Linked DNA regions of Homo sapiens. The main gene of each other region encodes a partner of the protein of the gene in region 2 in a complex. Each region holds a gene or a part of one and is shown on either strand. Other genes may lie near its edges. The genes, in order: SMARCD3, DPF1, ARID1A and SMARCD1.

The links.
Region 1: DPF1 (region 2) and SMARCD3 share a complex: the UniProt entries of both Homo sapiens proteins name them as parts of the neuron-specific chromatin remodeling complex.
Region 3: DPF1 (region 2) and ARID1A share a complex: the UniProt entries of both Homo sapiens proteins name them as parts of the neuron-specific chromatin remodeling complex.
Region 4: DPF1 (region 2) and SMARCD1 share a complex: the UniProt entries of both Homo sapiens proteins name them as parts of the neuron-specific chromatin remodeling complex.

What each region holds. Positions count from the first base shown.
Region 1 is NC_000007.14:151,245,695-151,252,804, forward strand, and holds the start of SMARCD3 (SWI/SNF-related matrix-associated actin-dependent regulator of chromatin subfamily D member 3), read right to left. Parts: upstream 3,001-7,110; 5' UTR 2,869-3,000; coding exon 2,791-2,868; intron 1-2,790. UniProt on the Homo sapiens protein: Involved in transcriptional activation and repression of select genes by chromatin remodeling (alteration of DNA-nucleosome topology).
Region 2 is NC_000019.10:38,221,209-38,229,080, reverse strand, and holds the start of DPF1 (zinc finger protein neuro-d4), read left to right. Parts: upstream 1-4,858; 5' UTR 4,859-4,938; coding exon 4,939-4,967; intron 4,968-5,175; exon of another isoform or gene 5,176-5,325; intron 5,326-6,372; coding exon 6,373-6,533; intron 6,534-6,616; coding exon 6,617-6,724; intron 6,725-7,872. UniProt on the Homo sapiens protein: May have an important role in developing neurons by participating in regulation of cell survival, possibly as a neurospecific transcription factor. Belongs to the neuron-specific chromatin remodeling complex (nBAF complex).
Region 3 is NC_000001.11:26,699,010-26,706,029, reverse strand, and holds part of ARID1A (AT-rich interactive domain-containing protein 1A), read right to left. Parts: intron 1-7,020. UniProt on the Homo sapiens protein: Involved in transcriptional activation and repression of select genes by chromatin remodeling (alteration of DNA-nucleosome topology).
Region 4 is NC_000012.12:50,088,331-50,095,350, forward strand, and holds part of SMARCD1 (SWI/SNF-related matrix-associated actin-dependent regulator of chromatin subfamily D member 1), read left to right. Parts: intron 1-190; coding exon 191-307; intron 308-1,509; coding exon of another isoform or gene 1,510-1,536; exon of another isoform or gene 1,537-1,553; coding exon 1,554-1,655; intron 1,656-1,910; coding exon 1,911-2,072; intron 2,073-2,162; coding exon 2,163-2,260; intron 2,261-6,106; coding exon 6,107-6,242; intron 6,243-7,020. UniProt on the Homo sapiens protein: Involved in transcriptional activation and repression of select genes by chromatin remodeling (alteration of DNA-nucleosome topology).

The DNA.
Region 1 (7,110 bases), on a different chromosome or scaffold from region 2:
AGAAACGGGCGCCCGTGGGTCAGACCAGGGCCCCCCGCTCCAGGCGCGGTGAGCCGGCGTCTCCCCTCCCCCACCAGACCCTCGGCTGGTGACCCTGAGCGTTGAGCGATGGGTGGGAGCGATGGGTAGGAGGGGCAGGGGCGCCGGAATCTGCGCGGCTCTGGCGGAGGGGCTTGGCGTCTGGCTGCAGGAAGCTAACTGAAGCCAGGCACCGCACAGGGCATTGCGAGCCTCGGGGCTGCGGAAGGTACCGCAAAAATGAATATTAATGGCGCCTTTCAACCTTTCAAAGATGTTCACATCCACATGCTCCTCTGCAAGACAGCCTGAGCAGGTCCTTTCATCCCCACTTGACGGATGGGGCCACTGTGGCTCAAGGAGAAAAATGACCTCGCCAAGGTCACACAGCTCATCCTGGCCCAGGCAGCCCCTGAAGGGCTGCCTCCTGGGGGCCCAGGGCTTTGCTCTCTGCGGCTTGGTTGAGGTCCGGTACCCGGCTCCCTGCTCCGACTTCTGCTCCTCCTCCTGCTCCTCCTTCTCAGGCTCCACTTCTTGGGCGGTTCTGCCTGGTACTCACTAGCTCATCTCAGCCACTCTGCTCCCTGTGTCCCTGCTTTTGACCCTTGGGTCCCAAACCCCACTCCCCTCGGCTGACTCCAAGTCCCCACATCCAGGGTCTTCGCTGACCAAGCTGCCCCCATAATTTGCTCCCAGGGTGAGGGCTGGAGGCAGGGCAGGCAAGGGCAGCCTGCTGGGGCGCCCCAGACACAGCCAGGATTCTCTGATTGGGAGGAGGGGAACTGCGTTAGAGGTGGGCTGCCCAGGGGGGCCTGGGGTGGGTCAGGGCAGTGACACTTGCACTCACATTTCCCTTCCTGTCTGCCCAGGTCAGCAGCCACCTCCTCCTCTTCCCATCCCCACCCCAGTGAGGTCAGCAGTCAGGGTTCATGGGGGCTGTGGAGACTGAGAGGAGGCGGCTCCTCCTCCCTTGCCACTACCCCTGGGTGGTCAGATGGGGTGTAAATGAGATGCAAATGCATCGAGCGAAGTGTTCCAAACCCCACTTGTCCAGACTCCAGAAGGGAGATGGGGAGGGCCAGAGAGAGTTTCAGGGGCTGTGAAACAGAAAGAGCGGGGTGGGATGGGGACTGGGACCACGAAAGCAGGAAGAAGATCAGAGGGCAGGGGATGCAGACCCTGGCACTGTTAACATGGACACACCACCCACCTCACCCCCAGGCATGAGGAGGGGCCCCCTTGGGCTTGCTGTTTTCCTTCCAACTGCTACCTCTCCCTCCTGGTCCTCCAGGCTCTGTGTCTAACCCTAATGTCCTCCCACCCTCGGTCAGCAGCTGTCTCTGCCTATCTCTCCTGCAGTGAAACCTGCCTGTCCATGTGTCTGCTTCCCTCACCCCACCTGACCCTGTCACTCAGGCCTCCAGGGTAGCAGCCCAGAATGGAGCCCAGGCCTGGCCACCAGCTAGGTGGGGCACTGGGGCTCACAGCCACTCAAGAACTGAAGCTGTAAGTTGACCAGATTAAAAAAACAGTCCACGTGTACAGCCTCTCCCCACTAGATGGGCCTTTTTAAAGGGGCTCCCACCAGCAGCCAGGTTAGGACTGGTAACTCAGCTAGCTGACATGGACACCTTGGGAAGTTACCCCCAGGGGTCCCTGGGGCTGGAGGACAGGCCACTCCAGGGAGTCCCCCTCTTCCTGTCAGCTGCTCTCCCCAGTTATCAAGGCCAGGGATACTGGCCCATCTGCTGAAGAGGCCCTGAGAGGGAGGCTTTCAGAGCCCCCAGAGAGCTGTGCCCGCCACCAGCCCCATCCCCATGAAAGGCCAAAATCCTAGGGACTCTGGCCTTACTGAGAGGGTGTCTTCCTTGGGGTCACAACCAAATTTGGCCATAGTAAACCCGACAGCTTCCTCTACACAGGGCCTCCACTCCCTCACCCATCCCAAGAGTCGCAGCCCCTGCTTCTCCCATTCCCCACCCCTCCATACCCCTCCCAGCCGGGCCCTACTGACTCAGCTCCAGCCTCCCGGGCTCCCACGTGCCTTCACAGCCTGCCTGTGGCAGGACAGTGCTCCCCTGTCCCTTCGGTCTCTAGGCCTCATGTCCCCAACTCCAGCCCCTTCCTTCACATGTTCGAGGAGTTAAGGACATCAGCTTCTGGTGGCTGAGTCCGCCAAGGAGACCCTCAGAGCCCCTAACTTGGGCTAAGTCCCTAGAGCGGTCCTCTCCCCCACCCTAAGGCAGAAGCTCCAGAGCCCTCCCGCTGGGATGCAGAGGTGGCTCAGCCTGCGAGCTTCCCGCTACAGTGCCTCCAGGGTCACCTGCTCCTTGCTCCGGAGACACAAGCAGTGACACTGTCCCAACGGATGAACAGACAGCCCAGCCCAGCCTCTGCCATGTCCCCATCCCCCACCCCCACCCCCAGGGCAGGGGCAACACCTGGGCCCACAAGGAAAAGAACGAAAGTCAACCTGTCGGCTACAGCGAGGACCCCCTACTTGGGGGGTAGAGTCCCCAAGTCCCACCCCCGCCCCTGACAAGAGCCATGCAAACGCCTCCCTTCCCCGCCTCGCGTCAGACCCGGCCGGCCGCCTGGCGACGTGTTCGGGTGCCAGGGCGCCAGCACAGTCCCGCGGCCGGGCCGTGGGCCATGACGCCCCCCACTAGAGGGGTGGGAGAGCGGGAGCGCCCTCCCGGCCCCTCCCGATCAGCCCTCCATTCAGCCCGAGCCAGCTCGCTTGCCCTCCCCCGCTAACTTTCCCCCACTCACCACCCCATGGACCAGAAACTCAAAAAGTTTGCTTTTCGTGGCTTTGCGCGCCCCTCCGGCAACTTCGTCCGCGGCCATCGGGGTGGGCTCAGCGGCTCCTCTCACTCTCTCTCTCTCTTCCTCTTTCTTTCCCTTTTCTGCCTTTTTTTTTCCTCCAACTCTCCCCTCTGAGTCCTGCTGGGCTCTCTCACACTTCTACTCGAGCGGAGTGGGGAGGGGGCCCCTTCAGGGCTGCCCTGACGGCCCACGGCCCACGCCGCCGCCGCCCGCCCGCCGCCGCCGCCGCCGCCGCGGCTGCCGCATTCCTGCACTGATAAGACAGAAATAGTCCGGCGGCCCGGGGTCTGCCTGTTGACTCGGCGGGGACGGGGCCGCCTGCCTTTCCAAGCCCGCTGTCCAAACAGCGCAGATAAGCGGCGAGGCGCGCCGACCAGCCCGGCCGCGGGCGCTGGGCAGCAGTGCTGCAGCCCGAAGCCGCCGAGGCCCGCGGGAGGCGGCGCGGGGAGGGGACGCCAGGGGAGGCGGCGGGGGGTCGCCGGCCACCGGCTCTCGCCACAAATAGTTTCTCCGTCAGGGAATTCGCCGGCCGCGCCAGGCAGGGAACAGTCAGTTCCAACTTTTCCCCCAGCGGCTCCTGCTGCATTTCTGAGGCCCTTTCCCCAGAGACCTGGCAGGCCGAGCAGGGAAACATTCGCTGGCAGGAACCGGGGGAGCCCGGCCCGCGAGGCCTCGCGCCTGCCCGGGGCCGGCGGCGGTGGGTGTGCCCGGGCGGCGGCGTGGCCCTGCGTCCACTGCTGTGTGTGCCCTTGTCTCACACGCCGTGTGTGTCCGCGCCCTTTTGTGGCGTGGCAGCTTATGTGCGTGCAGACAGACGCCCTGTATGTGTGCCTCCCTCCACGACAGCCTCCGTGCGCGCGCGCCTGCGTGTGTGGCAGGACATGGCCTGTGCCTTTCAGCTCTGTGAGAGGCTATTTCTGGGTATGTGAGTCTTTGTTTGCCGCTCTGTGAGAAAGTGAGGGCAATAGGGGAAGTATTTCAGAAAGAGGGACAGGGATTGTGCTCATGAGAACAGGAAGAGAATGAATGTGGGGAATGGCGCAGCGCCAGGGGGGTGCTCGGGTGGGTGCGTGGAGAGAACGAGGCAAGCTGGGCTTGGTTTCCTTGGGGTGGGGGTGGAGTGGGGTTAGGGGACCCAGAGGAGTTGGGGCAGCTGGGCTGGGTATAGTGGGTATATTGGGCCGGCCTCAAGACCCCAAAGAGAGGGGTCTTGAGGCTGGGGTGTGGCGTGGGGTGGCAAGGGAGCCCCAGAAGGGGCGTGTGGAAGGAGTTGGCAGTCCCTGGAGTGGAGGAGGGACCGGAAGGAGGAGGGGCAAATCCTGACATACCCAGGCAGGGAGTCCTGGGCCTACCCAGGTCCCCAAAGGCCACGCCCCTTTTTTCTCCTTCTTGGGGAGGAGCCGTGGGCTTTGGAACAAGGCCCTTGGGTCAAGTTTGGGGGTCTGCTGGGGCCTCACTGTGAGAATCCAGGTGAGGGCAGGACCATAGCCTAGTGCCTAGGGGAGTTTGTTGAAACACTTACTTGAAGTTGGGCCCTGAAGACTGAAGGGTACTGACCCTAAACCCTTCAGAATGCCTTTGCCCAGGGGGTCCTTTCTGCCTGCAGCCTGATTTCTGCTGGCCCTGGTTGTGCTCTTGGCTGTCACTGTTCATTTAGGTGCCCACTGTCAATCTGAAATGTCAGGGAGGACATCTGGTCCAGGTTGCTCCTCCACCACCCCTAGCTTGAAAGGGGACCTAGAGATCCCCTTGCTACCAAATCTCTCCCAGGGCTTTAGCCTAGACTACCCCCCACACACCCCCACACACAGAGCCTGGGCCCTGACACGGTGGGGATGGGTGGGTGGCCTGCCTCTGTCTGCCATAGGTCATGCTGCTGGGAACCTGGGGAAGTGACTTGCCCAGTCTGCCTGCTAACCTCCAGAATCCCCGCTCACTCCCATTTCTTAGCCCCTGCCCCCGATTCTTTTACCTGGAATGCCCTTTGCCTGCCCTCTGCCTTCCCTCTGCTTGTCCAAATCACACCTATTCTTTAAAGCCCAGCCCAGGCCCCACTTCCTCCAGGAAGCCTTCCTTCGTCCTACTTGTATGCAAAGATTTTTCTCTTCTCCAAATGCTCATTGCCATCTACCCAGCACCATGAATTGGCATTGGACTGGCCTGACGTGCACTGTGCTTCAAGGACATTAGCTTTGCTTTCCCAGAGAGGCTAAGGTCCCCATAAGGTCAGAGACTGATCTTTAACTCCCACTCTTCCTCCATGCCTGGGCACAGGAACTCAACAGTACCCCAGATACCTGATGCTTGCAAAGCTTAATGAGCCAATGCATGGAGCTGGTACTCTGCCATTTACCTGATGGTGTGAGTTACCATGGGCACCCCCACCCACCATGGGTGCGTCTAGCAGGGGCATGGGAAACCACAGGCCTTGGAGGTTCTGGGGGTTGGAGATAGACACCCCTAGGCTTTGTTAAAGCTCAGTGTTCTCAACTATTGGAGAGACCTTTTGGGAAAAGAAGACAGCAGAGGAGATGCTGGGCACTCCAGTTTGGGTAGCTGGGAAGTTTGAGGCAGGGCCTGGGAGATCCCGGGCTTGGTCTTGGTGGTGGAAGAGGTTGCGGGAGGTAGTTAGACGAGGGGCTATGGTGAAGCCCCTGTGGAGGAGCTGGTGAGCTTCACCCAAGTCCATACATAAGCGCTCTCCTGAGCCACCCCTCTGGGAGACATCCTTAAGTGTACACAGACAATAGATACACCTTGCACACACACCCTCCCAACACACACACAGCAGGCACACCAATACAAGCACCAAAAGGTCGAGGAAGCCACATGGCTCTGCACACACAGGCACACCTTGAGCACCTCCACATCCCGTGGTGGGCCCCATTCACAAGGCAGGCCCAGACACATTTGCGTACTGCTTTTAGGTGGGCGACAGGAGGAGCCTTCAGACCAGAAAGCTGGGGCGGCGCCAGTGTGGGGGCCCGGGCCAGGGCTCCCTCCTCACAAAGGCCAGGATCCCCAGTGGCTTAACCCCAGAAGGGCGCTCGGTGTGCCACGCCGCCGATGGCTCCTGCGGGTGGGAAGGAGGCCCGGGAAGAGCGTGGATTCCTCCCAGCGCAATAGGGCGCCCGCCGCACTTGGGGCAGGCCGTGCGCCTGTCGGGGGCGAGGGCGGCCGCCCGGCGCCCGGCGCCGCAGTCCCCCCTGCCGTCCCCCCATCGCTCCTTCCCTCGCTGAAGCACCACCAGCACCAAATGGCAAAGCGCCGCTCCCCGCGCAGGGAGAGATGCGCCGCGGCCTGCGGGACGGGCTCGGCCGCCTCGCCCCCACCGCGCCCGAGCGAGCGGGCGGCGGCCGGGGAGCTGGGGGGGCTCGGGCCGGCCCGGCCCGCGCCGCCCCTCCCTCCGCCCGCGCCGGTCCCCGGCCTGGGCATGCGCGCCGCGGCCTCCCTCCCGGTGAAGGTCAGCCCGGGGCCCAGCTGCAGGACTCCGCGGCGGCCGGGGAGGCGGCGGAGGGAGGAGGGATGCGGGGAAGAGACTTAACTCCTTCCCTGCGGGAAGATGGCCACCTAGGCCGGGCCCCAGCCGCAGTCCCGCCCTCCTGCCCTCCGTGAAGGTCCCACCACGGGGACTCCGCTCGGGGGGCGCGGCAGGAGGAGCAGGAGAGCGGGGAACATGGAAGAAGGGGCTGGAAGGAGAGAAGAGAAGCTGGCGAGGGGATAGGGAGGAAGGGAAGGGAGGAACAAAGGAAGCGAGACTGGAGGGAGAACGGATTGCTTGGGAGAGAGCTCTTTCCTCTATTCCCTTTTCCCTACACCCCCAGCAATAAAGCTCTCCTTAGGAGAATACGATCACCCTCACTGGGGCGGCCTGAGTGAGTGTGTGTGTGTGTGTGTGTGAGAGAGAGAGAGAGCGAGAGAACGCGAGAGGAGAGGGAGAGAGAGAAAGAAAGAGAGAGGGAGAAAGTGAGACCACTTGGCGCTGTGAGGACCACAAAGCCTTGGTTTCGGTGTTCTGGCCATCTCTAAACCAGGCCCCACTTTCCGCCATCCAGCCTACCTGCCCGGGCTAAGCACCAGCCTCGGGGGACCTCTGGCTAGTCCTTGGGGTCACGCCCAGCTCCAGAGAGGGAGGAGGGGAGACTACCTCAACCCCCGCCTCTGGTGACGGTCAGCAGAGGGGACGCTCCGAAGCCAGGCCAGGGGCATCAGGCACCTTCCTCCTCCTCCTCCTGGCTGCCCCCATGCTGCTTCCAGGCCAGG
Region 2 (7,872 bases):
AGGGTGGGAGCTGAGACGTCGGGGGTCCCCAGTTCCATCCCCGCTGCCTCCCCTTTTTCCTCCCGGGATCCCGGGAACTGGAAGCCCCGAACCCGCCGTCAGTCTGGACCGCGGCATCCCTCCCTCTCCCCGCGCATACACATCAAACGGGAGCATCTCTGATCCCTTTGGGGACCGGCTGCCCAGGAGGGGGTGCCGGGAGCGCCCTCGGTCTCCGGGGATTCCCTCCCTTTCTCCCTGGCCGCGGTCCTCCGAGCGTTCGCCTCTTCCCGGGCCCGGTGGCTGGGAATCCGGAAGCCTGGGTCCGAGCCTGGCCCCTCCTGACCCTCTCCTCTCCTTGCCATCCCTCGCGCTCTCCACACCTCCCCTTCCCCCTCTCCATCTCGCTCTTGCTTCCTCTTCGGGATCCCGGACTCCACGTCCCAGCGCTCCCCACCCCCCGTTCCCAGGCGGTGACAGCGGGCTCCAAGTGACAGGCACTCGGCCGCTCCCGCCCTCCCTCCCCGCAGGCGAGCGAGGCGCTCCCCTCCCCCTCCTCCCGGGCCTGGTGGAGGAGGCGGAGGGCGAGCGCCCGCGGCGTCGCACAAAGGGGCCGGGGCGACCTCCCCCACCCTTCCCCCAACCCCGTGCGCTGGCTGCCTTGACCTTGAACATCGAGGGCTGGGGGCGGGGGTGGGGGGTGGGGGGAGAGAGGGAGAGAGGGAGCGCCCCCCTACCCCACCCACGAGAAGGGATGCGCCTGCTGGCTGGACCAGAGGCCGCCAGTTGCTTCTGGTTTCTGGCGGGAATGGGGGTGGGAGGTGGAGGGTGGGAGTTGGGAGAGGAAGGGGGGCAGGGACTTAGAGGCAAGCGCCTACACGTGTGGCTTCGCCGTGAGCAGGGTGCCGGGAGCGGGTGTGTGGGGCTCGGGTCCGTGTGAGGTGGTGTATGATGGTGACACCCCTCTGCTGCCCTCTCACCCTAAGTGGCACACACAGACAGCTGTCTCTCCTGTGAGGGGACATCCGCAAAATGGCTGGGAACGGGGCTCTTGTGCAGGTTGGTGGATCTACAGGCGATGGGGCCCCTCACCCTGACCCTGGCCCAGACCCCTGGGAGGAGGTGTGCTACAGCCGTGAGCAGGGGCCCAGCTACAGTAAGCCTGGACTGGGAGGGCCCTACCCCTCTGTGCCCTTCCCTTCCAAAAGGTCTCTGTGGGGGTGAAGGTGGGGACTCCCTGGCTCCTGAAAGAATGTGAGTCAAATCCCCTGGGGAGAAGGAGCTGCAGGGTGCCGCCCTCGGAAGTTCCGACTGCCTGAGTTCCAAAACCAGCTTGAGCCACGAATGTTCCCTGCCGTGAGCCTCAGTTTTGCCATCTGTGTATGGGGGCTTCTAACAGCCCTTACCACCCGATGGGACTGTCGTGGGGCTAAGGCCATCTTTGTAAAGCAGTTAGCACAGAGACTGACACTGACCAAATGTAGTGATTATTATTAGTAGTATCAATATTGATTTATGAAATTGATTTCTACTGTGGGCCAGCTCCCACACAGGGCATTGGGGGATGGGGCAGGAGGATTGTTTGGGCCAGGGAGAGGACTGGGAGTTCAAGTGTGTAGGAGAGTATGTGGGAGTGGTGTGTGCAGGTGGTTAGGGCAGAAGGAAAGAAAGGAGAGCCCGCTGCAAGTGTCAGCCTGCGTCTGTGGGTAGATATCCTGCTGGTGGGCCGGGCATGGTGGCTTATGCCTGTAATCTCAGCACTTTGGGAGGGCAGGGTGGGCAGATCACTTGAGCTTAGGAGTTTGAGACTAGCCTGGCCAACACAGGGACACCCTGTTTTTACAAAAATACAAAAATTAGCCGGGTGCGGTGGCACAGGCCTGTAGTCCCAGCTACTTGGGGGTTTGAGGTGGGAGGATCGCTTGAGCCTGGGAGGTGGAGGCTGCAGCGAGCTGTGTTCATGCCATGGCACTCCAGCCTGGGCCATCGAGTGAGACGCTGTCCAAAAAAAAAAAAGAGAAAAAGAGAAAGAGGAAAGAAAGAGAAGAAAAGAAAGAAAGAAAGAAAGGAAGGAAGGAAGGAAGGAAGGAAGGAAGGAAGGAAGGAAGAGAAATAAAAGAAGAAAAGAAAAGAAAGAAAAATAGAAATTCTGCTGGTAGAGGAGGACTGTTAGGAAGGTCTGCACTCAGTGTCTACACTCGGGCTTCTCTTAATCAAATCGACATGAGAGTTTGGGGTGGGGCAGGAGTGAGTCTGCGTGTCTGAGGCTAGCGGTGTGGGAATCAAGTGTAAGAGGGTGTGTTACGGGACCTGTGAGCTAATGGGAGGTGAGAGAGGAAGGTGGGGTCACAGCTCACCGTGGGTAAGGTGTGAGGTGGCCACTATAGGGCCCTGGAGGCCAGAGTGATCGTAGGGGTGTCAGTGCCCCTCACTTAATCCCCTTGTCACCACTCCAGGCCATATGTGAATCAGAGACCTACCTCCTGTTCCAGGAGAGGGGCCGGCCAAGACCTTACCTGGCTTAGATGGGCGAGTTTGTGGAAAGGGTCTAAGACTAGAGGAGTGTGTGTGTGTGTGTGTGTGTGTGTGTGTGTGTGTAGAAGTGACCGTGAGTGTAGGAGGCCTTGACTGGATCTCTCTCTTGGGGGGATTTCAAGTGACAAAAATGGTGAAGGCTAGCGGGCCACTTCTGTCGGCTGGGGCGCCCCCTGGTGGATGAGGGCGTTTGTGGGCGTGTTAATTACAGCAGCCGCCCAAATTTGAATGCTGGCTCTACAGGGGTCCGGGTGGAAGAGGGGAAGGGGAAAGGGGGAGAAGGGGTGGGAAGGGGAAAGGGGGAGGAGGGGTGAGACGGGAGGGGGGACGGGGTGGTGGTGTTGCAGAGAGACTGGGTCAGTTTGTGACTCAGTGGGTCTGCTCACTCCCTGGGGATCTCTTCGGGTGGAGTCAGTGTGGGTGACAGTGGGAGAGAGAAGGAGGTCAGGACTACTTGGGGAGGGCCGTCAGGGGTGCCTGCCTCCTTCCTTCAGTCTTACCTTCAAAGAGCCGCCAGGGCATGCGGGCATGTGAGGTTACCTTCCTGTGCCTCAGATTCCTCACCTGGAAAATGCAGATAATAAAAGCATCCCGGGGTGAACTGTGCCCAGCACATGATGGGTGCATTTACTCATTCAACAAATATCTACTGAGCATCTATTTTTTTTTTTTTTTTTGGAGACAGGGTCTTGCTCAGTTGTCCAGGCTGGAGTGTAGTGGTGTGATCATAGCTCACTGCAGCTTCGATCTCCTGGGTTCAACCAATCCTCCTGACTCAGCCTCCTGAGTAGCTGGGACCATAGGCATGTGCCACCATGCCCAGCTATTTATTTTTTTTTTAGTAGAGACCAGGTCTCGCTATGTTGCCCAGGCTGTTCTCCTGAGCTCAAGCGGTCCTCTCATCTCAGCCTCCCAGATTGCTGGGATTACAGGCATGAGTCACGGCGCCCTGCTTACTTAGTTTTTTGTTTGTTTGTTTGTTTGTTTGTTTGCTTTTAGAGACAGAGTCTCGCTCTGCCACCCAGGCTGGAGTGCAGTGGTGAGACCACAGCTCACTGCAGCCTCAGCCTCCCAGGTTCAAGCTATCCTCCCACTTTAGCCTTGCAAGTAGCTGGGACTACACTGCTGCGCCATCATGCCCAGCTAATTTTAATTTTTTTTTGTAGACACAGGGGTCTGGATATGTTGCCCAGGTTGGTCTCAAACTCCTGGGCTCAAGCAGTGCTCTCATCTAGGCCTCCCGAAGTACTGGGATTGCAGACTGGAGCCATCGCACCTGGCCGCATTATTCTTTCTTTCTTATTATTTATTTATTTATTTTTGAGAGGGAGTCTCACTCTTGTTGCCCAGGCTGGAGTGCAATGGCACGATCTCAGCTCACTGCAACCTCCACCTCCTGAGTTCAAGTGATTCTCCTGCCTCAGCCTCCTGAGTGGGGGAGTATAAGCATGCGCCACCATGCCCGGCTAATTTTGTATTTTTAGTAGAGACTACTACCATGTTGGCCAGGCTGGTCTCGAACTCCCATCCTCAGGTGATCCACCTGCCTGGGCCTCCCAAAGTGCCGGGATTACAGGTGTGAGCCACTGCGCCTGGCCTGCCAGTCACCTCTTAAAATGCTTTACCTATATTTACTCATTTAATCCTCACAACACTCCAGTGAGGCATCATCCTCTTTTTACAGATGAGGAAACTGAGGCCCAGAAAGGTTAAGTCATTTGCCAAGGTCACATGGCCACCAAGTGGCAGAGCTAGGATTTGAACCCTGGAGGTGTGACTACTGTTTCTAACCTGCACTGCTGCTGTCAGGCCTGCAGAAGGCGTTGAGCAGGGCGGGGTGACCGTGAGCGTGGCTGCTGGGAGAGACAGCCCCGGGTGGGGTCTCTGGAGCCAGGAGGGACTTGGGTGGGGGGCGGTGAGGGGGTGTCTGCTGGAAGCATGTTGGTGAGAAGTCTGTGTGGGCACCTGGGAGGTGTCTCTGCGTCTCTTAGTATTGCAGTGTGTGTGCGTGTGGCTGTGTGAGTCCGTGCGAAGGTGTGTGAGTAGGAGTGTGTGGGAGGCTGTGAGTATCCGCGTGAATGTGTGTGTAAACTGCCATGCGTGGGCGTGTGCGAGTCCAGGTGTGCATGTGGTTGTGTGCACGCGAGAGCAGGATATGTGGACGAGTGAGGGCGGGTGAGTGACGGTGCGTGCCCCGGGCCCCTCCTCCGCGCCGTCCCGTCCCCGCGGGGTCCCGGGGGCCCCCTGGCCTGGGACTACCACTCCCAGCATGGCCCGGGCGGGCCCGCCCCGTCGCCGCGATTGGCCGTGGCCCTCGTGCTCCCGCCCCCCGGGAATGAATGGATGGGCGGCCTCAGCGCCCGCCCGACCGCTGGGAGGACCGACCCGGCGGGGACCTGCTGGGGGCAGGACCCGGGGAGCAAGATGGCCACTGTCATCCCTGGCCCCCTGAGGTGGTGCGGGCCGGCGGGAGGCGGAGAGGAAGCGCGGGCGGGTCTACGCGGGCCTGTGTGTGTGTGGCGACCGGGGGTGGGGCCGAAGGGGTGTCTGGGGGGCTGTCACCGAGTGCGGGGCTGCGCGGGGGTGCGAGAGTGTGTGACTGTGGGTCTCTGACAAGAATGGTGTCGGATGCACCGCTCCCTGGCGGGGTGGAGGGCGTGGGGGGCCTCCAGATTCTTTTTGGGGAAGGGAGACATCATCCCTTCCCTGCAACCCTCGGGTCTGGGAGAGACTGAAATGACCCGGGGGTGCGGGGGCCTTGGCAACTGGAGTGAAGTCCACACTACCTTTGTCTTGGGATGTGGAGTGTGTGTGTGTATCACTTATTTGTGTTCTGGTTTTTTTAAGAATTTTTGGGGGATAGGTGTGTGGACATGTGTCTGTTTCCTTTTATTCTGCACTAGATATCTTTGGATATTTGGGTCTCCCAGTGTGTGTCCGTGTCCTTTGGAACTATATGTCATTTGTCTTGTGTTCTGTGTTTTTGGGTATGTAGGGCTGCGTGTATTTGTGTGTAAATTTTTGTGTGACTATGGGTGGATTTGGCTGTTTCTGTGTTTTATATGTGTGTGTGTCTGTGTGGATGTGTGATATTTTAGATACTGGTTGCGCATCGTGCATCTTTGTAAATGTGTGTGTGTACCTGTGTGAATCTGTGTGATTTCTTTGTGTTGTGTGTCTGGATATTGTGTGTGTGGTTTGTGTTGTGTCTTTGGATACATGGGTAAGTGCCTAGGGGCGCAAGTGGTTTCTGTAGTTCCTGTCTTTTGACATGCTTGTGTCTTTGGATGCATGAGGGGGTGTATGTGTGTGTGGTGTGATGTTTCCATGTTGTGTGTCTTTGTGTGGGTGATGTGTTTCTGGTGTGTGTCTGTGGATATGTGATGTGTCTTTGTGCATGGTTATTTGTGTGATTTGTCTCCACACTATGGAACTTGGGATATTTGTCTTTTTCAGTAGATATTTATGTGTGCACGTGTGTGAGGTTTGTCTGTTTCTCCTTTGTGAGTATTGGGATTTGTCTCTCTTTGTGTGTGAATCCCGTGTGACTGTGTGTGATTTGTGTTGTGTGTCTGCATGTGTTCAGGTAGGGATACGTCCCGGTGTGTTTTTGTTTGTTTCTGTATCGTGTTTCTACTCATGAGCTGGGGGCCTGTTTGAGTCCCAGTTTGGGGGCCCCTGGGCCCTGTCCCCTTCCCCCAGCCTGGGTCCCGGAGTGGGAGGAGGGGAGAGGTGAGGCTGGAGGGGTCGGCCCACCCCTCCCGAGCCTGGGCGGCCCGGCAGCCGGGGAAGGGGTGCTGGGCGACCCTGTGCGCCTGCCCTTGCTGACAGCCGCCCGCCCGTTCGCCGCCCCTCTAGCCTAGGCGAGGACTTCTACCGCGAGGCCATCGAGCACTGCCGCAGTTACAACGCGCGCCTGTGCGCCGAGCGCAGCCTGCGACTGCCCTTCCTCGACTCGCAGACCGGCGTGGCCCAGAACAACTGCTACATCTGGATGGAGAAGACCCACCGCGGGCCGGGTACCGCCGGGAGGGCTGGCGCAGGGCGGGGCGGGGCCAGGCCGCCCCACCGCCGCCGCCCTCTCACCCCCCTCTCTCTCCAGGTTTGGCCCCGGGACAGATTTACACGTACCCCGCCCGCTGTTGGAGGAAGAAACGGAGACTCAACATCCTGGAGGACCCCAGACTCAGGCCCTGCGAGTACAAGATCGGTGGGTGCAGCCGCTGGGGCCCCCATCGGTGTCCCAGCGCCTGCTGTGTGTCCTAGCACTCGTCCATCACCTTTATCGCCTTCTAGCAAGTGTCTGCCTGGCTGGCTGTGTGTCTGTCTGCCCATGTGCGTCCCGGGTGTTTCCCAGAGATTCCACAGTTTCTCTGAGTCACTGAGTGGCGACTGCATCTCCTCCTACATGGGCCCAGGTGCCCAGTTGTTGTTATTTATTTATTTATTTATTTATTTATTTATTTTTGAGACAGAGTTTCACCCAGGCTGGCGTGCAATGGCGTGATCCCCCAACCTCCACCTAGCGGGGAGTTGAACCTTGAACCCGCAACTTCCGCCTAGCAGGTTCAAGCGATTCTGCCTCAGCCTTCCGAGTAGCTGGGATTACAGGCATGCGCCACCATGCCCGGCTGATTTTGTATTTTTAGTAGAAACGGGGTTTCACCATGTTGGTCAGGCTGGTCTGGAACTCCTGACCTCAGGTGATCTGGCCACCTCGGCCTCCCAAAGTGCTGGGATTACAGGTGTGAGCCACCGCGCCTGGCCTGTTGTTTTTTAAATAGAGGCAGGGTGTTACTATGTTGCCCAGTCTGGTCTTGAACTCCTGAGCTCAAGGGATCCTCCTGTCTCAGCCCTCCAAAGTGCAGGGATTATAGGCGTGAACCACCATGCCCCACCAAGGGTCCCAGTGGTATTGGAGGGCATAGTGATATCTGTTAGGTGTGTGTGGGTGTATGGAGTTGCTGACTGTGTCCCTTCCCCTGGGAACTGGGATGGATCAGTCTGCCTGTATTTTTTTTTTTTTTGAGATGGAGTCTGGCTCTGTCACCCAGGCTGGAGTACAGTGGCGCAATCTCAGCTCACTGCAACCTCCGCCTAGTGGGTTCAAGCGATTCTCCTGTCTCAGCCTCCTGAGTAGCTGGGATTACAGATGCACACTGACATGCCCGGCTAATTTTTTTGTATTTTTAGTAGAGACAGGGTTTCACCATGTTGGCCAGGCTGGTCTCGAACTCCTGACCTCAGGTGATCCACCTGCCTTGGCCTCCCAGAGTGCTGGGATTACAGGCTTGAGTCACCATGCCCGGCCATCTGCCTGTATTTTTTTCTGTGGGTGCCTGAGGGTGTCTGCCTCTG
Region 3 (7,020 bases), on a different chromosome or scaffold from region 2:
ACAAAAATCTGTCCTGGATTACTGGGTGATTTCTAATATGTACCATGACCAACACTAAGTCAACATTTTAGGGATCAAATTTCCTACTCTGCAGCATGTTGGAATGCATTCTTGGCATTAGACTTCTTCCCATTCCAGTCCACCCTTAGAAAATGCAGAAGCCACTGGGAAATAGACTCAACCTGTCCCAAGATAATATTCCAGCTATGCACAAGTGACTAACAAAAACAAACAGAAGTTCATTCAGATGTCCCTTCACATTCAGTAAAAAACTAATTTCATCCATTTAAATGGAGAGGAGGGGTAATTTCAGGAAGAATACTCAAGGCTACTAAGTCAATATTCACCCGAACTTGGATTCCTCTAAAACCTGGGAATGATCAGAGTTCAAGCCCCTAAACACCTGTAATCCATAGGAGGTTAACTATGGTGCCCAATTCTGAGTAACTGAAAACCCACTTTTGCAAAATGCCAAAATGGCAAGGCAAAAAAAGTGGAAAAGGTATTTCTAAACCAGAATGTTTATCCAAGACTCCAGTACTTTCAGCAGGTCATGGACCATTACTTGAGGGGGGGGGAAAAAAAAAAAAGGCTGGGCGTGGTGGCTCACACCTGTAATTCCAGCACTTTGGAAGGCCAAGGTGGGTGGATCACACCCGAGGTTGGGAGTTCAAGACCAGCCTGGCCAACATGATGAAACCCCACCTCTACTAAAAATACAAAAATTAGCCGGGCATGGTGGTGGAAGCCTATAATCCCAGCTACTCAGGAGGCTGAGGCATGAGAATCGCTTGAACCTGGGAGGCAGAGGTTGCAATGAGCCAGATTGCACCACTGTACTCCAGTCTGGGTGACAAAGTAAGACTCCATCTCAAAAAAAAAAAAAGGTCTGCAGTACTTCTGTACTGGAGCAGTGTAACCAATCCTTCTCCAGGTAGAAGCATTACAGTGGCCTGGCACTGGACATGCCATGCATCTTCAGCTGTTAAGCATCCACTGATGATCCTTGACCGGTGAAGTGCCAAGGCCCAACCACAGATCGACCAGCAGGTAAAGAAACCAAAATCACTATATTCCAGAGGCTCCACAAGGATTAAGCATTGGTGAGCAGCATTTGTTAGCTGCTTGGCCATAGTAACCTAATAAAAAACAAATTTTTTTTTTTTTTTTGAGACAAGGTCTTGGCTCCATTGCCCAGGCTGGAGTGCACTGGCGTAATCATGGCTTACAACAGCCTCAACCTCCTGGGCTCAAGCAATCCTCCTGCCTCAGCTTTCTAAGTAAACTGCGACTACAGGCACGTACCACCACATCCAGCAATTTTTGTGTCTTGTAAAGATGGGGTCTCCCTATGTTAATAGCCTGGTCCCAAGGCTGGTCCTGGGCTTGGGCAATCCTCCCACCTTGGCCTCCCAAAGTGCTGGGATTATAGGTGTGAGCTACCGCGCCCGGCCAAAAACAGTATTAAAGGCCATTTCTATGAATAAATGGGCAGACTGCATATGTGCAGGCTTACCTAACCCATCAACCTCAATATAAGGTCTAACACAAGCAACTTGACTTGAACACAGCTCCCAGCTCCTCAGAAATAGCAGCCTAAGAGTCCCAACAGATACTTACTTCGTGGCTCTTGTTTTAAGAAAGGTCAACTAACTCTGCCAAGACAGACTCACCAACAAAGTTGAACCACCATTACTACAGAGCTGTCCAGGGCACACAACTCTGAAGGTGACATGACCTTCCAAATCCAAATTTACTAGAAAAGTGCCCCTGAACTAGCCAAGAACTTAACAGTCTGTACCAAAGGCTCTACCTGACCACAAGAACCACTAAGACCCTGGAACCACTCTTTCAGGGAGTTTTATGGTTAGAGTCCAAATTCTCAAAGTCATTGGAACACTGAGACAGCTACTGGTCTGGAGATGGATGTGCAATGTGGATTCTATCAAGCCCATGGAACTTAAGAATAGCATTATGAAAAGGCAAATTAGTATTCTAAGTTTCTTGAACATTTAGCTTCACAAAAAAAGCCTCTGAAAAGCTGTCCCAGGTTAACCCTGCCAAACTGATTGAACCTTTTCCTCTAATTCCTTCAGCTCACATAATTAGTGTGGTCTACATCCATTTATGAAACCTTGCTTTTCAAGTTTTCCAGATGTGTGCACATAAGCATGCTTTCCTAAGAAAACTAAATGCCTCTGAAGGAGATATTGTTTCTACCTTTTAAATCTCTTCCTAGTACCTAGCTGGTGTAATCACATAGGGCTATTTCCCATCCCCATTGGAATTTCCTGATCTCTCTGACTTAGAAACTATGCTCTCAGCAATAAGTCTGAAGTTCCTAATACCCTCACTACCAACATACTGGGAAAGGACCATGCAATATTAAGCAACCTATGTCAGTGCCAATCCAAGTTTTTGTGTTTTGTATTAAAACAAGCTGATAGCCTTTGGTAGTAAGTTAGCTGAACCTAAAAATCATAGTCAGGACCATAATTACATTCATATTCCCTGCTACTATATAAACAGCTAAGTCAAAAGGGCACTTCCAGGACTCTGGTGTAAAAAACACTTCTTATAAAGAAAACTGGTGTCAGAATCAATGAATCTAGTTAAAAAAGACATTCTGAGAAGGCAAATCTGGTCATCTCACAAGGCTACCAAAGAAGAGGACCACAGACAGACAGCTAAAATATTCATAGATTCTTCTTCTTCTTCCATAAAAAGAATGTGTCACTGAAGGAACCCAGATATGTTTTTAATCCTAAAATGGCAATTTCAAAAACAAAGACTGTATCTACTCACATAATCCTTCAAGTAAGATGTAGTGAGTCCCCAAATATTTGGACTTTGTACTGACCCAGGAACAGAGTGTAAAGGCATATTAATTTTATCATAAGTGATACACAGAAGTCCAGTAAAAACTGTATAAATAAACCCAGGCCATTGGGTAGTGGACTTATAATCCCCAGCACAACAGCAAAATTGAGGATAAAGATCACACTCAAGTTGCAGTATCTTTTTTCTCCTTTCTAATATTCCAGAAATGCAAACCCAAGCCAAAAATAATCTCACCAAGCTACCCTTTAAACCTCAAAGTCTCATAAGCCAAGTGTCTGGGGTAATACTTACCTTACTATTGACAGTCAGGATCTTCTTTCCAAACTTCTATTTTCACTATGAAACTGCAATTGACTTTAACAGGATACCACATGCCCTGAACTTAGCACGCAGCCAGGGCCACAGAGGTTTCACTACCAGGGCAGCATCTTTCCATTTCAATTTTTTTTTAGATCACTTCTTATCTCCACACTCACTGCCCCCCAGCACTACCCTTTTCCTATCCCCAAGTCTTTTTCCCCAATGTTATTTTACTCCACCACATGAGGAGGCTAGCATTATCTTTGCTTGAAAACTGTTTATTAATTTGCCTGTCAAACATTCTATAGAACAGTTTACATCTTACTACAGAAACCTCCTGGGTACATATTGACAGCTCAGCAAGTATTTACACAAAGCTCTGAAACATTTGGTTCCTTCAGAGACGATAGAAGATGCTGTGTCAAGCACAGAATTATCAAACACTGTTCCCTCTACCCTTTTCCCTCCTTTATAAAGGGAAGCTTCCTTCCTCTAATATACCTAAATTACACTTCTAAACTACTAAGCCAGGAAGAGAAAGAATGGAAATTCAGGTGTGCTGGAGAAGAGAAAGAATAGCATTTCCAGGACCACGTGCAAAGCACACCATGTAGTTTTTTAAACCATAGCGATGAGAAACAACAAATGCACCTATGAAATTGACCCTGAAACGCAGCTTTTCCTCTTCCAGTCTCAGGAACATTTGCTTCTCTCTCAGCAAAACTTACAGGGCAAGTCCAGGCACTCAGATTACAACCAACTGCCCAAACCAGACCTAGACCTGCCCAAACACCAGGAGTCTGGAGAGCTTAATGCTCCCTCTCTCTCCCTACCCCTCCCCAAAAGCAGCAGAATATCAACACTGAACTTATGAATATCCATTCCTCACCCCAACCCCAAGTGCAAAAGCCTCCTGGGGATCCTGAAGCAACTATTTTTCAAGTCTTGCTTTAATGAAATCTACCTAACTTTCCAACGACTATTTAGTGTTTTAAAACCACCAGCCAGGTGGAATGACTAATGACAAACAGATTAACAGTTTCAAGGCAACAGTCTGGTAGAGCTTTTTCTGTAAAAGTCTACAGACCACAATGGCACCCAACTGTTCAGAGCTTGTTCCTGTGAATCCCAGGAGAAAATAGCTTTGAGTTCCTTCAGTCCAGGGGAAGAAAGATGGTCTCAAGACCCCTGATTTATGTACAGAAAGCTGCCTTCATAACAAGCCAGCTATGGAAGCACAGATATGTAGCATCTTAGAGTGAGAAGGCCATGCAGACCAACTTCATTTTATTGATGAGGGAGAAAATGAAAAATAGAGAAAGCAAATGACCTGCCCAGGGTCACACAGCTTAATCTGGAGCTGTATGTGGAACCTAAGCCTCCTCCTTCCTCCTCCTGTTGTGAGTCCTGTGCTCTTTACCACTAACGCAACACACAACTCAAGTATGCATCAGTAATAACAACGTAAGTGTGCGTCAGTAATGATAATGACCAATCTAAACAAGGAAAAACCCAGAGATAAAAGCCACAGGAATCAGGACTCCATTCAAGCCCCAGGTATTACAGCTCACTGGCAGAAAAGAACTACTCGGTGCCAATATATTTGAATACCACATTTTTACCATATTTACAAGCTTCAGTTGCTTCTAGAATTTTGAGAGTTGAAGCCAATCAATACAACCTTTTGAGGGATGGGAACAGGAAAGAGCCCTGCCTATTACTTTGTTAGCCTATTCCCTCATTCTAAAAAAGTTCACTAACCTCTTTGCAAAAGGTCTACTGTAGACATTACACCTACAGGAGTCAATCCAACATATTAATGTTTAATGCAATCCAAGACATCCTGTTTCAGCAGGTGCTGCTTGTCATGGTTACTCATGTCACACACAAAGAAAGGAACCTAAAAAGTCCTCACAGGGCCCAATACACAAGAAGCCAAACCTGGTCCTGGCTGCTTTCTCTGTTCTCACACCACCATCTCAATCCTCATCACCCCAGCTCTCTCATGAACAGTAGAGAAACATGAAACCCCCACAACTAAAGTGCCATCTCAGTGTGGTTTTCCTGGTCCCTCCTACTTGAGAGAGCTCCAAGAGTCCTGTATTTCAGCCAGCCTAGAATTTCTGCCAGTAGGCATTCCCATAATAAATCTAGGATTCCTGTATCTGTTTCCCAGGAGTCAGAAATATCATTTGATGTTTCCGTAGTAGAAACTAACAACCAAACTTCTACAATAAAATCCAACTTGTTCCTGGACTATTTATTGTATTTTATTTTTTACCTTGGTAAACTGGTATTACTCTCAAAGTATTATTGCTAAAAAGCGTCCCAATAAAAAGCCTTAAATCAACTTCATGTGTGTAAGTAATCTAAAACTATTTCATCAGTACCGGGATTCAACACTTGAGATACACTACTTATGAAAAGGAATAAAGTAAAAGTTTGTCTAAGATCTTCCCAGGTCCTGTGAAAAAGACATAGCCACAATACACACACTTACCTAAACTTTATTTCATAAGCGCAGAGTCAAATGAAAACGTTATCACCTTAGCTGTGTTAATTAAGTCTCTGCAAAATATTCTTAATCTAAGACTGCGCCAGGAAAAGATGGAGACAGAGCAAGACTTTTTAATTTAAGAATGTTGAAGAGTAGAGCATCATGGTCTGAAAAGAGGTTTATCAAGTAGCAAAGAGAAATTCAGAACAAAGTCTGAACCTACAACCCTCACCTAGACTACTACCACACACCTGAAGCAGTCCACAGAAGTGGAAGCTGCACTGTCTCTTACACAACTGAATGCTCACCAGCCCATTCCCTGGGTCTCTGGGGAGTAGACAACTGAGCTGAAATTAATTAGGAATCTATGTTGTGTGGGTCTAGTGATAATAAAAGAGATCAGAAAATTCATCCAAAGGCAGCACAGACAGGCATCCAAACAGGGACTGTATCTATTCTCCTATCATCTACACAGAAAGTGTTCCATAATTTACTGACTGAAAAACAAAAATCATTATACCAAAAGAGTTGGCTTTTTCTTTAAAACCTTTGACTAAATATTTCCAAACCAGCAGAATTCCAATCAATTTTGCTTTTAAATGAACCCTGACTTACTACCCCAAATGACTTATTCTAATAGTTTTCAAGAAAAGTAAAATTTTCAGCCAAAACCAAACAAAACAAGGGGAATGAGAGGAAAGAGGTTCAGACTATAGGATGACCCAGAGACAAGAGGATGCTGTCTTTTAAGACAAAACTTTTCCTCCAGACACTAGAAAAACAATGTAACATTTCCCTATTTCTTGTCCAGATGCAGAACATCATGGAAGATGTAGAATCAAGGCACAGAGCTCCAAGCCCACCATCTAACACAGCTAATTTCAAAATCCCCAGCTCAAAAGAGTAGTAAAGTAGCTCTAGGATGGGCTGGGAATACAGCTAGTAAGTGAACAAAATTTCCTCCTAGCACAAAAGCGCAAGGGGTTTGGGAGGGGATGAATGGAGCTTCCCCCTCTTTGAAAACATGTATGACTCCACAGAATACTCAATATCCCTGACCAAAAGCACTGCTGACAGAGCATGATGAAGATGGAAGAAAAGCAACAAAATAAAACAAGATAGAATAGTGTAACAAGGTACTCAGAAGTTGCAATTTCTAAGCAAATCTTAAGTGTCATTCTAGGTCGTATCTTCATATCTTGGAAGACAAGAAAAAAAGTGGAACATACATTAAAATGCAAAGGAATAAACTGGCCAGTCTCTATTTCAAAGCTCTAAAATGACTGATGACAAAACAGAAAACTAGACTTTTTGTTATTCCAGGAAAAAAACAATTTCACCAAACCAAGCCTTTAGGAGAAAGTCCCTCAAGATCATGAAAG
Region 4 (7,020 bases), on a different chromosome or scaffold from region 2:
AGGGTTCTGTTGCTACTATGATTGGTTTAATACCTGCAGATGCCTACTTTGCCTATCTCTCTTAAGAGATATTCAGAAGATATTTTTTGAGTTTTTTTCCATTGTTGTTGGGGTTCCTTTTTCATAGGATTTTGTCTTGGGAAGTTTCTTCTGGCCTTTCCTAATGTGATTTTTATTTTCTCTCCTCTAGTCAGCCTTGTCCAAATATGATGCCACTAAACAAAAGAGGAAGTTCTCTTCCTTTTTTAAGTCCTTGGTGATTGAACTGGACAAAGACCTGTATGGGCCAGACAACCATCTGGTAGAAGTGAGTAGCTCTGCCTTCTAGGCTTTGACTCTGATTGGAGGATGATGGACTTGGGAGCCGTATTTTAATGTCTAAGGAGATGGGGAGGTATAAAGTAGTCACTCTAGGTGTACACAGTACCGCTCCAGGTGTACAGTTTGCACATTGACCTCTAGGTGGCACTAGCATGTTTAGTTAGGACCAAGGGCTCTTGTAACCTAACTTGTCCCATCTTTTTAATGTTACTATCCTGGTCACTGCCACCTCTTTCAAGGGAAAGTCTACTGGTGGCCTCTTGTATGTGCCAGGCCATCTCTGTATCTTGCTTGTTAATAATGGTGAGATGTAGTTATCCATTTTTCCTGGCAGCAGTTGCTGTAATTAGAGTGATTGACTGATAGGGTACTAGTACTTGCCAAGGTTACCATTATAGATCTGGGACTTCCTCTTGGTCTCTGCTCTGTTTACATTTACATTCCAATTCACCAAAAATCCTTTATTATGATGCCTGATTGCACAACGTTTTGAAGCCCATGTTAGCAACAGTATTCTTTGGGAAACAGGCAAAACCAGAATGACAGTCCAGCCAGCACTCCAAGTGAACCTAACCTGCTCCTTTCTTTGCCAGTGTAGCTGCAGCCCCTTAACCTCAACCACTAAGAGACATGGGGAGGTCTTTACCATCTAATAAGGGAAGTAAGTCATAGAATCAATAGAAACTTGTAAATATATTTAATTTTATAGCAGTAGAGTATAGTGGCTAAGAATGTGGACTGTAGAATCAGACACATCAGAGCTCAAATGGTGGCTCCGCCACTTACTGGCTGTTTGACCTAGGCAAGTTACTTTATTATGCTGAGCATTAGTTTTCTCATCTGTAAAATAAGTATAATTGTGCCTATCTTGTATAGATGTTCGGGAAGTGAGATAATCCAGGTAAATGTCTTAGAATACTGTCACACATAGTAAGTACTCAGTAAATGATAGCTATGTTACTGTTCACATGTGTATTATCCATTTTGTGGATAAAATTATCACTGGACATTGAGGCTTATTTAAATCAACCACAAACAATTAAAAGGTTAATCTACTTATACACAGACAGTAATCCCAAAGCCATATGCAGTTTTTTAAAATGCCTCATGCTATTACTCTTCTCCAGTAGCCTCAGTAATCAAAGTTGAATATTCAGTCATTACAGAAGCTCTTCCCTCCCACCCCAGCTCTTCCTCTGGGAGAGCACCCCCTGACATCTTCCTCTCTGTAGTGGCACAGGACCGCCACTACCCAGGAGACCGATGGCTTTCAGGTGAAGCGGCCGGGAGACGTGAATGTACGGTGTACTGTCCTACTGATGCTGGATTACCAGGTATTCTGTGGTGGTGTGAGGGGGTCCAGCTTTCACAGCCACATACCGTCAGCAGTCTCACTTTAAAGAGTTTATGTCTAGTTGTGAATAATTTGCCACTTTGGCACAGAGATAGAGTCTTAGTCATCTCTGAGTTCTTCCTAGAATTTTTCTGTCCCAGAAAAAGCACTACATTATTTGTTGAATAGCTTGAATGTATTGCTGCATATAGACGCAGCTAACTAGCTTCATCCCCTATACTTTGGTTCCCTGCAGCCTCCCCAGTTTAAATTAGACCCCCGCCTAGCTCGACTCCTGGGCATCCATACCCAGACTCGTCCAGTGATCATCCAAGCACTGTGGCAATATATTAAGACACATAAGCTCCAGGACCCTCACGAGCGGGAGTTTGTCATCTGTGACAAGTACCTGCAGCAGGTAAGTAATGGACCCATTCTTTTGCTAGAATCCATTAGAACACTAGTTATGCTCAAACTGCTAACCTCGTGCTTCTCCCCTTTGCTACAGATCTTTGAGTCTCAACGTATGAAGTTTTCAGAGATCCCTCAGCGGCTCCATGCCTTGCTTATGCCACCAGAACCTATCATCATTAATCATGTCATCAGGTAGGCCTGTGTGTGGGAGGCAGTGCTGTGCCGGAGCTGCCTTGTGCCGATTTGCACAAGCCAGTTGTCAAATTTTCAGGAATTTTGCAAACAGGTTGTTAAACACAACTGTTACACTGTTACTTACAATTAAATTACATAAACTTATAATTAAATATATTAGACTAAAAGTGGGTAACATATATTCAAAATGTATAACTTCCTAATTATTACATTTTATTGTATTTGTGCTTTTTTTTTTTTTTTTTTTTGGAGACAGAGTCTCACTCTGTTGCCCAGGCTGGAGTCCAGTGGCGCGATCTCGGCTCACTGCAAGCTCCGCCTCCTGGGTTCACGCCATTCTCCTGCCTCAGCCTCCCGAGTAGCCGGGACTACAGGCACCCGTCACCACACCTGGCTAATTTTTTGTATTTTTAGTAGAGATGGGGTTTCACCATGTTAGCCAGGATGGTCTCAATCTGACCTCGTGATCTGCCCGCCGAGCCTCGTGATCTGCCCGCCTCGGCCTCCCAAAGTGCTCGGATTACAGGCATGAGCCACCGCGCCCAGCCTGTATTTGTGCTCTTGAGGTTATTTTTGCCTGTTGTATCCATCTGGCGGAAATATGATATAATGATGTGCTTATGTGTTACTGTGCATCTCTTCCCATGAACAGTAATGTAATGTTGGTAGCTTGAAATCAGAATTTTTTTTTTTTTTTTTGGGATGGAGTTTCACTCTTGTTATGCAGGCTGGAGTGCAATGGCACAATGTTGGCTCACCGTAACCTCTGCCTACTGGGTTCAAGTGATTCTCCTGCCGTAGCCTCCCACATAGCTGGGATTACAGGCATGTGCCACCATGCCTGGCTAATTTTGTATTTTTAGTAGAGACAAGGTTTCTCCATGTTGGTCAGGCTGGTCTTGAACTCCCGACCTCAGGTGATCCACCCGCCTTGGCTTCCCAAAGTGCTGGGACTACAGGCGTGAGCCACCGCGCCCGGCCTTTTGTTTTGTTTTGTTTTGAGATGTAGTTTTGCTCTTGTTGCCCAGGCTGGTGTGCAATGGCATGATCTCAGCTCACTGAAACCTCCGCCACCTGAGTTCAAGCAATTCTCCCTCCCCAGCCTCCCACGTCGCTGGGATTACAGGCACCTGCTACCATGCCCAGCTAATTTTTTTATATTTTTAGTAGAGACGGGGCTTCACCATGTTTGCCAGGCTGATCTCAAACTCCTGACCTCAGGTGATCCGCCCACCTGGCCTCCCAAAGTGCTGGGATTACAGGTGTGAGCCACTGCGCCCGGCTGAAATCAGAATATTTAAAGCCCAAAGATCAGCAAATGCCACACATCTGGGCACTTCCTCCCACTCTCCTTTGGAAGATCAGTTGTTAAACATCTACCAGCTCTTCACTCATGGAAGGGCTCAGCAGCCATCTTTTCTCTGGATGGTACAGCATTCTAGTCCGAGCCTCCCAATTCCATTACCTCTGTTCACTTTTTTGTTTAGAAGCTGGAGAGCAAGGCATCTCTAGATAGGGGGTGAAGAAAATTTCCTTCTCAAAGCAGCGTGTCTCTGTAGTTGGATATAGTCTCTTTGTCTTCCTTCCTTTATTCCATATTAATTCTGGTAAGGGCTTTCTTTTCTTTTCTTTTCTTTCTTTCTTTTTTTTTTTTTTTTTTTTTTGAGACAGACAGAATCTCACTCTGTTGCACAATCTCGGCTCACTGCAACCTCTGCCTCCTGGGTTCAAGCGATTCTCCTGCCTCAGCCTCCCAAGTAGTTGGGATTACAGGCGCATGCCACCACGCCCAGCTAATTTTTTGTATTTTAGTAGAGACGGGGTTTTACCATGTTGGCCAGGATGGTCTCGATCTCTTGGTCACGTGATCCACCCGCCTCGGCCTCCCAAAGTGCTGGGATTACAGGTGTGAGCCACCACACCCGGTGGGCTTTTTTTTTTTTTTTCTTTTGACCCTGAACCTACAAGATGACAGAGAGGGAGGGGAAAAAAAGAAAAAAGATAAGACCCTGAACCTTCACTTACACAGTAGTAACTCCTCAACCTATAAATTAGGTCAGTAGAAGTTGGTCTGTCCTATATTCCTATGCTTAAAGTTAGACCACTTTTAATTTTGTGTTTGACTTTATTTTTGGGGTCAATTTTAGTTTAAAAGGGAGAAAGCCAGGCACGGTGGCACATTCCTGTAGACCCAGCTACTCCAGAGGCTGAGGTGGGTAGATCACTTGAGTCCTGGAGTTCGAGTCCAGCCTGGGCAACAGAGTAAAATCCTGTCTCTGAAACAATAAAAAAAGATTTGTTTGGCTGGGCGCAGTGGCTCACGTCTGTAATCCCAGCACTTTGGGAGGCCAAGGTGGGTGGATCACAAGGTCAGGAGTTCAAGACCAGTCTGGCTAATATGGTGAAACCCCATCTCTACTAAAAATACAAAAATTAGCTGGGCATGGTGGTGGGCGCCTGTAGTCCCAGCTACTTGGGAGGCTGAGGCAGGAGAATCACTTGAACCGGGGAGGCAGAGGTTGCAGTGAGCCAAGACTGCGCCACTGCACTCCAGCATAGACAACAGAGCAAGACTCCATCTAAAAAAAAAAAGAAAGGCTTCGTTTGTTTAAACATACAGAGTCTTGCTCTGTCATCCAGGCTGGAGTGCAGTGGCATGATCTTCGCTCTCTGCAACCGCTGCCTCCCAGGTTCAAGCAATTCTCGTGCCTCAGCCTCCCAAGTAGTTGTAATTACAGGCGTGCACCACTTTTTGTATTGAGGTTTCGCCATGTTGGCCACACTAGCGTTGAATTCCTGGCCTTGAGTGATCTGCCCGTGTTGGCTTCCCAGAATGCTGGGATTACAGGTGTGAGCCACCGCACCTGGCCAAAAAAGTTTTAAAAATTATTATTATTATTTCTTTTTTGAGACAGAGTCTCTCTCTGTTGCCCAGGCTGGAGTGCAGTGGTGTAATCATGGCTCACTGCATCCTCGACCTCCTGGGCTCAAGTGATCCTCCCACCTCGCCTCCTGAGCAGCTGGGACCACAGATGTGTGCCACCACGCCCAGGAATTGTTTTGAAATTTTTTGTAGAAACTGGGGTCTGTGTGGTGTAGGCTGGTCTCAAACTCGTGGGCTCAAGCAGTCCTCTTACCTGAGCCTCCCAAAGTGTTAGGATTACAGGCATGAGCCACCATGGCTCGCCGAATTTTTTTTATTTTTAGAGATCGTCTCACTCTGTCACCCAGGCTGAAGTATAGTGGCATGAACTTGGCTCACTATATCCTCTGCCTCCCGGGTTCAAGAGATTCTCCTGCCTCAGCTTCCCCAGTAGCTGGGATTACAGGCGTGAGCTACCACGTCCGGCTAGTTTTTAGTAGAAATGGGGTTTCACCATGTTCCTGACCTCAGGTGATCGCCCACCTTGGCCTCCCAAAGTGCTGGGATTACAGGCATAAGCCACCACGCCTGGCTGCCAAATATTTTTTTTAAAGGGAGAAAGATATATAGGAGACTGTAGCAGTGATTTCCTCTGGAGAGAAAGGAACTACTTTTCACAGGATACCTTTTGTACTGCTTGAATTTTTACCATTGACTTTTTAAATAAATCAACTTTATTGAAGTATAATTTATATATAACAAATTATACCAATTGAAAGTGTAGTTTGAAGATTTTTGCCAGATCTGTACACCATGTAGCTGCCACAATAAAGTGTAGAACATTTCTGTCACACCCGAAAGTTCTCGGGCCCTTTTACAGTTAGCCCCTTTTCTCTTCATCCTGGGTCATCTTTTTGACCCTGTGTAATTAGGTCTTAGGGGACAAGCTCTTTACCAGGCTCCTTTGGTTTCCTGTCCAGTGTTGACCCGAATGATCAGAAAAAGACAGCTTGTTATGACATTGATGTTGAAGTGGATGACACCTTGAAGACCCAGATGAATTCTTTTCTGCTGTCCACTGCCAGCCAACAGGAGATTGCTACTCTAGACAACAAGGTAGGGGTCTGTGCCCTGGATAGTTGGGTACCACCAGCCCCTATCACAGCTTCAAGGCCTCCTTTTGATTCTTAGTGTTCATTCAAAATACGGTGACACCCAGTATATGTCAGGTACTGTGCTTGGTGCTGGTTTGAGCCAGACTCAAATGAATTCTGATTGTGGGGATACTCTCAACAGCACTGAGCCTCGGTTTCTGATTTGTGGAATAGAGACCATAGTACCTTTTTTTTCCTTTTTTCTTTTCAGGAGTCTCGCTCTCTCGCCCAGGCTGGAGTGCAGTGGTGCAATCCCGCCTCACGGCAACCTCCACTTCCTGGGTTCAAGCGATTCTCCTGCCTCAGCCTCCCAAGTAGCTGGGATTACAGTCACCCACCATCACACCCGGCTGATTTTTGTATTTTTAGTAGAGACGAGGTTTCACCATGTTGGCCAGGCTGGTCTCCAACTCCTGACCTCAAGTGATCTGCCCGCCTCAGCCTCCCAAAGTACTGGGATTACAGGCGTGAGCCACCACGCCCAGCCCATAGTACCTATTTTAATCAGGTTGCTATGACGATTAAATGAGGGAGTGTGTGTAAAGACTTGAGACTGTATCTGGCACATAAAAACAACAAATGGTAACTTCTGCTACTATTATTGTTATCTGGGTTGTTATTACTAGACGCAGTCCTTGCAAATAAAGCCAAAAGTGCTTTGGGAACATGAAGGAGAAAGGGAGGCTTTGCTGGAAGAGTTGATGCCCCAACTAAATCTTTTCTTTTTTTTTTTTGAGATG